Regions from separate parts of the Homo sapiens genome. Here region 1 is linked to region 2. The links come from fine-mapping of genetic effects on gene expression. A gene starts in region 2. The other region holds a variant in brackets. All regions are shown on one strand. Distances are from middle to middle.

Evidence for each region. PIP is the estimated chance that this variant, and not a neighbour inherited with it, causes the effect. A credible set is the group of variants that fine-mapping cannot tell apart.
Region 1: its variant is the best candidate, but not a certain one, in a credible set for the expression of DNAJC27 in whole blood (INTERVAL, PIP 0.66).

What each region holds. Positions count from the first base shown.
Region 1 is chr2:25,067,063-25,071,062 of GRCh38, forward strand. The region is part of intron 1 of EFR3B (EFR3 homolog B); the gene reads left to right. Among named protein-coding and RNA genes, the nearest start is that of EFR3B, 27 kb to the left of the region's middle. RefSeq lists a silencer at 3,213-3,355. The variant A/G (reference allele first, on the strand shown) is at 2,440.
Region 2 is chr2:24,969,376-24,973,895 of GRCh38, forward strand. DNAJC27 (DnaJ heat shock protein family (Hsp40) member C27) reads right to left here and starts at 2,580. Exons shown (of 7, transcript NM_016544.3): 1 at 2,443-2,580. The coding sequence starts at 2,529. DNAJC27-AS1 (DNAJC27 antisense RNA 1) reads left to right here and starts at 2,737. Exons shown (of 3, transcript NR_034113.1): 1 at 2,737-2,857. RefSeq lists enhancers at 1,991-2,120, 2,074-2,592, 2,131-2,240, 2,501-2,610, 2,593-3,111 and 2 more and a silencer at 2,291-2,370.

The DNA.
Region 1 (4,000 bases), 97 kb after region 2:
ACTGTCCAGTGTGGTAGCCATTAGCCACATGTGGCTAGTGAACACATAAAATGTGGCTAGTTTGCTGGAGGAACTGAATTTTTAAATTTTATTTAATTTAAGTAGCCACAAGTGACTAGTGGCTACCATATTGGGTAGTGCAGTTTAAGTCGCTCCTCACCCTCTCCATCCCTAGGCACCCCCACCCAGCTCTACTCGGTGACCAGCGTTAACACTGTGCTGTGTATCTTTACAGATCTTTCTTTGTTCATGACAGCATATTTCACGCACATATTTACATACACACCCCATTGGTTTGGCCTGTGAGGGTGCACACAAATGGAATCATATCATAGGTGTTCTACAGCCTCCTTTTTAGTTTTTGTTTTTTTTTTTTTGTTTTTTGTTTTTGAGATAGAGTCTCACTCTGTTGCCCAGGCTGGAGTGCAGTGGCATGATCTCGGCTCACTGCAACCTCCGCCTCCTGGGTTCAAGCAATTCTCCTGCCTGAGCCTCCCAAGTAGCTGGGACTACAGGCGCCTGCCACCCCGCCTGGCTAATTTTTTTATTTTTAGTAGAGACGGGGTTCACCGTGTTAACCAGGGTGGTCTCGATCTCCTGACCTCGTGATCTGCCTGGCCACAGCCTCCTTTTGAATTAACAGTATGTTTGAGAGCTGTCTGGGGCGGTGCTCAGAGCTCTGCTTCATTCAATTCAGCTGCTGCCTAGTGTGCATTGCATGGCTGTTCCCTGCCTTATTTAGCCAGCCCTCTATTTTCTTTTTTAATGTTAAAACTTTTTTTTCTTTTGGAAAAAAAAATAGAGATGGGGATCTCGCCATATTGCTCAGGCTGGTCTCAAACTCCTGGGCTTAAGTGATCCACCCACCTTGGCCCCCAAAGTGCTGGGATTACAGGTGTGAGCCACCGCACCTGGCCTTTCCAGTCCCCTATGGATGAGCATTGTAGGCTGTTTCCAAACAAAGGCACCAGATCCATCTCTTACCTGCTTCCCTGTGCATACGAGCAGGTGCAGATACCCAGACATGGGCTTTCTGAGCCAAGGGGAGGAAAAGCATCCATGCTTCTCCTGTGGTGCTCTCACCCCTGGTTCTCCTGGACTGGGTGTGTAAGGTCAGGGCTGATGTGTGTATGAGCCATAAGTCTGAGATGCTGCTGGGGAGCCATTATTTATTTAGTTTTTTTGAGGAAGCCGACAGTCGTGTCCTACTCTGATCTCTGTTTCCACTCCCCACACTGAGGAGCTGAAACTTAGATTTTATCAAACAGACTGTGATGAGCCCTAAAAATACTGAGACATTAATAACAATTTGAAGCTGACAGACATAGACAGCAGGCATCTGCAAGCTGAGTCAATGCAGGCTTGAGGAAGATCGGGAAGGCTCCACGCCTCATTTTCTAAGTTAGATTTCTCAAGCCTCATTCATTATGCTCATCCTGGGGCACAAGCATAAGATAACTGGGTTTAAGGGCCTGTGTGTTTGCTAGCATTTGAATATTAGGTGTTGAGCAATGAATAAAACAAAGATTCACCGTATGATCTGTGCTGGAGTCACTTTTGTTTTTTTTATGTTTTTTTTTTTTTTGAGACAGATTCTCGCTCTGTCCCCCAGGCTGGAGTACAGTGGCGCGATCTCGGCTCACTGCAAGCTCCACCTCCCGGGTTCATGCCATTCTTCTGCCTTAGCCTCCAGAGTAGCTGGAACTACAGGTGCCTGTCACCACGCCCAGCTAATTTTTTGTGTTTTTAGTAGCGATGGGGTTTCACCGTGTTAGCCAGGATGGTCTCTATCTCCTGACCTTGTGGTCCGCCCACCTTGGCCTCCCAAAGTGCTGGGATTACAGGCGTGAGCCACCGCGCCCGGCATCTTTTTTTTTTTTTTTTTTTCTGAGACAGAGTCTCACTCTGTCACCCAGGCTGGAATGCAGTGGCGCGATCTTGGCTCACTGCAACCTCCGCCTCCCGGATTCAAGTGATTCTCCTGCCTCAGCCTCACCACCACACCCAGCTAATTTTTGTATTTTTAGTAGAGATGGGGTTTCACCATGTTGGCCAGGCTGGTCTTGAACTCCTGACCTCAGGTGATCCGCCCACCTCGGCCTCCCAAAGTGTTGGGATTACAGGCATGAGCCATTGCGCCTGGCCTGTACTGGAGTCACTTTCTAAGTAAGCAAAGGAGGCCAGGCCTTGGGCACAGCAGCGAAGCCAGGGTCAATTAAAGCGAGATGAGAAGCCATCGCTTGTCTCTGGTGGCCACGATGTATCTTGTCTGATGCTTTTTTCCCCTCTTCCTGATTTCAAACCATGCTAAAATAAAGATTATTAAAGATTCCATACTAATGTAGGCTAGGCGACCCCCAAAGTGAGGCTTAGTCTGTGACGGTTCTTGGCTTTGCCCAGGAAAGAATTCAAGGGCAAGCTAGTGATAGAGTAGAAGAA[A/G]ACAGCCTTATTGAAGTGGCAGCATTACAGCTCCAGCGGTGTTCCAGCTCCATGACTGCTCCTGCAGGGCAGGGCTACCATGTAGACAATCTGTCTGAGAGTAGCAGCTCAGGGCAGTTTTGCAGTCGTGTTTATACCACTTTTAATTATATGCAGATTAAGGGGCAGTATGTGCAGAAATCTCTAGGGAAGGGGTAGTAACTTTTTGTTTTTGAGACGGAGTCTTGCTCTGTTGCCCAGGCTGGAGTGCAATGGCACGATCTTGGCTCACTGCAACCTCTGCCTCCCGGGTTCAGGACATTCTCCTGCCTCAGCCTCCCAAGTAGCTGGGACTACAGGCATGCGCCACCACGCCTGGCTAATTTTTTTGTATTTTCAGTAGAGACGGGGTTTCACCGTGTTAGCCAGGATGGTCTCAATCTCCTGACCTCGTGATCTGCCTGCCTCGGCCTCCCAAAGTGCTGGGATTACAGGCCTGAGCCCCCACACCCAGCCAGGGTTGTAACTTTTGATTCATCAGGTCATTGATTATTCATCAGGTCCTTGCTGTCGAAAGGACAGTAACTCCTGGCTATTGCCATGGCAATGGTAAACTGACATGGCACACTGGTGGGTGTGGCTTATGAAAAGCTGCTTCTGCCTTGTTTTAGCTAGTCCTCAATTTGGTCCAGTGTTCAAGCCCCACCCCCAGAGTCGAGTCCCACCTCCTACCTCATTACACAATATTTTCCCTGTGATTACCGGGGGCTTCTGATGATTTTATTTATTTATTTACTTTGAGACAGAGTCTTGCTCTTTCTCCCAGGCTGGACTGCAGTGGCGCAATCTTGGCTCACTGCAACCTCCGCCTCCCGGGTTCAAGCAATTCTCCCACCTCAATCTCCTGAGTAGCTGGGATTACAGGTGCATGCCACCACGCCCGGCTAATATTTACATTTTTAGTAGAGATGGGGGTTTCACCATGTTGGCCAGGCTGGTCTCGAACTCCTGGTCTCAAGTGATCCACCTGCCTCAGCCTCCCAAAGTGCTAGGATTACAGGCGTGAGCCACCGCATCCTACTGGCTTCTGATGATTTTAAAATTCAAATCTGGAGGAGCTAGTGATGGCTGATAAGAAAATGAAGGAGGAAAGCAGTGAACAGCAGGTGACATCCTTTCTATTTGAAACGTCCCTCCAGCAGCCAGGAGTGGGAGATATTTGGCAGGAATGGGCCACTGTCAATGAAGAGCTGAGGAAGGGAGAGAGGCGGGGTGGCAGTGGGAAGAGATGGAGGGCGCAGAGGCTCAGAGGGACAGACTCTACTAAACTGCTCATCTGACAAACTGTGAAGGCACACAACATTGGGAGGGTGAAGATATCCATTCGGATTAATGCAGAGATCCGCACGTTAATGGAAATGAAAACAAAGGAGAAAATTCATTGTTGCTTAATACACCACAGGTCAGGCTCAAGCTCTTTTCTTTTCTTTTCTTTTTTGAGACGGAGTCTCGCTCTGTCGCCCAGACTGGAGTGCACTGGTGCGATCTGGGCTCACTGCAAGCTCCGCCTCCCGGGTTCATG
Region 2 (4,520 bases):
TGCATGCAAAGCTCTCATAGACATCCAAGGAAGGTTTACCGAACACTAAGGAAAATCTTTCTGGTGGAAACTGTGAACGTTGAAAAACCATCATCACAGTGAAAAAAAATTTTTTTTTTCTTTTTAGAGTCTCACTCTGTCGCCTAGGCTGGAGTGCAGTGGCACAATCTGGGCTTACTGCAACCTCCACCTCCCAGGTTCAAGGCAATTCTCCTGCCTCAGCTTCCTGAGTAGCTGGGACTACAAGCGTGCGCCACCATGCCTGGCTAATTTTTTGTATTTTAGTAGAGATGGGGTTTCACCATGTTGCCCAGGCTGGTCTCGAACTCCTGAGCTCAGGCAATCCACCTGCCTCTGCCTCCCAAAGTGCTAGAATTACAGGCGTGAGCCACTGCGCCCGGCCTGAAAAATATTTTTAAATGGCTGATACAGTTGGTCTTCTTTCATTTCTTTTTTTTCCCCACAATTTTCTTTGTTGTTTTCACATTAATTTTTCATGAAGACTTTAGTAGTCTTGTATTATGTTCTGGGAAAAAAAAACCCTTATTGATGTTTTCACTGGAATTGAATTTCATTTGTAGGTTGAGTAATTCACATCTGTACAATATTGTGTAATCCCACGTAAGGAAAAAGTATATCTTTCCATTTGCCTAAGTAATTTATCTCCCTTTGTAGAGTTTGAAACTTGTCTTCATATAGGTGCTGCCTATTTCATGTTAAGTTTAAACCTAGGAACTTTATTTTTGTTGTAACTGTAAATTAAAATTGTTTTTCAATTACACATTCCAACTGAATATAATTTGGACACAATAAAGTTATTAATTTGTGGGTAATAATTTTGCTTTATTGAATTTTTATAATGTTTCTAATAGTTTTTCAGTTATTTCTCTTTGGGTTTCCAGGTAAACAATCGTATTATTAGCAAATAATGTTAATTTTACCTTCTCTTTTCTAATATTTTTATATTCTCTTACTCTTGTCTAATTGCACTGGCTAATAAAACTAGAAAAATGTTAAGTAGATGTGGTGACACTGGGCATTCTGAGCTGCTTCTAATGTTGTATCATTAGGCACAGTAAAATTACTTTTTTTTTTTTTTTTTTTTTTGAGACGGCGTCTCACTCTGCCGCCCAGGCTGGAGTGCAATGGCGTGATCTCGGCTCACTGCAGCCTCTGCCTCCCCGGCTTAAGCGATTCTCCCGCCTCGGCCTCCCAAGTAGCTGGGATTAAAGGCGTGCACCACCATGCCTGGCTAATTTTGCATTTTTAGTAGAGACAGGATTTCACTATGCTGGTCTTGAACTCCTGACCTCAAGTGATCCGCCCGCCTCGTCCTCCCAAAGTGCTGATGTATTACAGGCCTGAGCTAGCGTGCCCAGTCCCTAGAAAAAAAAAAACACCTCGTACACAGCTGACGTTCAAAAAAATGTTGACTTTCAGTGAATACTATGCTAGCACATACACACAAAAGTAGTACGGGATCATGCTACACAGAAATAAAAAACACTAAGTAAACATTTACTGAGCATCTCCTGGGTGCCAGGCACTGGACTAGGCACTGCCTTAACAGCTCTTTCGGAGTTGATTTTGAACGCATACAACGACGGAAAGAGCACCGCAGTGGGAATGTGAAGACTTAGGTTCTAATCTTTCCTCGGTCACTGATTTGATGACCTTGGGAAGTTCTTAACCAACAGATTCCACTTGCCCAAAAGGAAAGAATTTGAGTGAAGAGGAGGCCGTCTTGGAATTCATAAGGGAAAAGGCCTCAGGTTACCTCTGGCCTTCCCTCCCCACGTACTAAAGGAGAGTTTATAGCTGATGAACCACAGATGGGGCAGAGAGAAGGGCGGTGGAACTAACAGATATGGGGACACCACCAAAAATAAAACACAACGCAAAACAAAACAGCGCGGACCCCGGCCATCCCTTGCACCTCCCCTGTGAAACACGTCAACGTCAGTTACGCTCTCTCGTGACGGGAATGCAGAATCTGGGCTGCCGGGCACCATTTCGCGAACCCCAAATTCTCACACGCACCCCATAACGTTCCGCCGGCTCCCAGGCCCGGCTGGGGGAACTAAACTTTCATCCTCCATCTCCCGGTCCCGGACGGCCCCCTAGAACGCGGGCAAGGTATCTAGGCCGACGGCCCCTCATGGGGACCCAGGCCTTCTTACTCTTTTGGGGGTACATTCAAGGCTTAGAGGCCACCCCAGACACCATCTCCGGAAGAGTGACGTCGGAGGACGAGGGGGCAACGGAAAGGTCAAAAAGGTCGGGGAGTTTCGTTCGCGGAGCCGCACCCCTCGGCTGAGACCCGGGCCTGCTCGGGGGCGGAGAGGAGGCCGGGCCCCAGGCTGTTGAGTGGCCGCCCTTCCAGCCAATGGACACGTCGCCCCGCCACGCTGGGGCCCGCCCCTCCCGGCTCGCTGTACTCACTTTCCCCACTTCGGCGTTGCCCATGGAGATGACTTTGATGCGGAGAGACCTGCCGGGCTCCTTCCGCTTCGGCATGTTGGCCTCCATGGCCCTGGCTCTCTCGGGGCCACCCGCCTCGGTCTCTTCTTGTGCACCGCTGGCCCGTCCCTCAGGCCTCCTCGTCCAATGGCGGAGCCGCTGCTCTCGTCACCGCCTCGCCTCCGCTGCTCGCCATCCCCGCCGCTGCCTGGCAGCAGGCGCGGGCGGTTGGGAGCGTGGGGAGCCGGGGGAGGGAGACGGGAGTCTCGCGATGCTAGCGCGGGGCTGCTGACGTCATCTGCAGGCCCTGGAGACGCGACTGCAGTTACCGAGTTTCTAAGGCCTCGTCCCCTGACGGGAAGGCGGCGTTGGGGGGCGGCTGGGTTTACCCTTCGAGGTGAGCGCGTCCTTGTTTTCAGGGACGCCCGGACGGGAGGCGTTTGTTGCTTTCGCAGCCGAGTGGTGGAAATGTATTGGCTCTTCAGGGCGGGTCTGGTAGTGTCTCGTCCGTTTGGGAGTGTTTTTTTTTTTTTCTGGATTCTTTTTCGGTTCCATGGGCCGGGCTGCTGCTCCTCTTCCCCCTCCAATATTTTGTTCCCCTTGCTCGAGATCCCCGAGAGGCAGACCCCAAAGCCAGGAAAGTGGGGAGGTCGGAACCCTGGTTCTGGAAGAGGGCCTTGGGCAAGGCGTGAAGCGATTCTGAATCTGGTTCCTATTGTTTTTTATTTTAAATGGAGTTGTCTATTTGGAGTCAAGGCAAGAGTGTTTAGTCTTGGCCCTCCTATTACAGATCTCTGATGGATTTGTTGACTCCTCTGTGGGAGAAAGGCTTGGTCTACTGCAGGTGTTAACGCTAAGCCAGGCTGGAGCTGTGGACGTCAGTTTCCTCAGCTCCCCGCTGTTCGCTTCGAACGTGACCTCGACGTCTGCTCTCCCCTTCCCTTTAGCTGACAATGTGACAGTGCTTGAATAAAAGTCAGTCTGACAGGAACGGTAATTTTTTTTCAGTGAATATCTTCAGTTACAGAAGATAAATAGAACTTGACAATGATTATTTATAGTGCCCTGAAAAAAAATGGCTGCCAATTTCCCTGTATATTACAAAGACAAAAGTAGCATTGCTTCTTTTCTCACCTAACTTTAAACATCTTAAGGGAAGTGCATTACAGGAAGGCAATGAGCAAAGGCTCAACATTTCACAGTAAAGTCAGATTTTCCACATTTTAATTTTAAAATGTGTTTTTTAAACATTAAGTTTTTTTTAAGACAAGTTTATTCTGGATTGTTTTGATAATCAAATAATATAACTTAATTCACTGAAGCTTCTAAAATTATTTACAAATATGAAATATAAGTCCTGGTTAGAATTTGGATAGTTTTAAAGCTTAAAAGAATCCACATGCTAACTTCTCAGTATGATTTAATAAATCAAATTACTAAACATGTAATTTCTTCGACAGTTCACCTTTGGCCCTGTAATAGGGTAACTGGTATTGTGGAAGAATAATTATAAAATGTCAAATCTTCAGCTGTTATGATTGATTAAGTATGGTGCTGTTGAGACTAAGCAGTAAAACATGCCACAGATTTAAATTGATTACTATTTTTTTCATATTGATGGGGTTTTTTTTGTTTTTGTTTTTGTTTTTGAGACAGAGTTTCCCTCTTGTTGCCCAGGCTAGAGTGCAGTGGCACAATCTCTGCTCACTGCAACCCCTGTGTCCCGGGTTCAAGCAATTCACCTGCCTCAGCCACCCGAGTAGCTGGGATTACAGGCACCCACCGGTATACGCAGATAATTTTTGTATTTTTAGTAGAGACGGGGTTTCACCATATTGGCCAGGCTGGTCTCGAACTCCTGACCTCAGGTGACCCTCCTGCCTTTGCCTCCCAAAGTGTTGGGATTACAGGCATGAGCCACAGCGTCCGGCCCATATTGATGCTTTTGACACTTTATTGTATATAGCTACATTTTCTACTGTGTGTATTAAATTAGTTTGGAATCGAAAGAGCAAGAAAGTTGTTTTTTTTCCCCCACTCTTTGAATATAAAAAAATAAA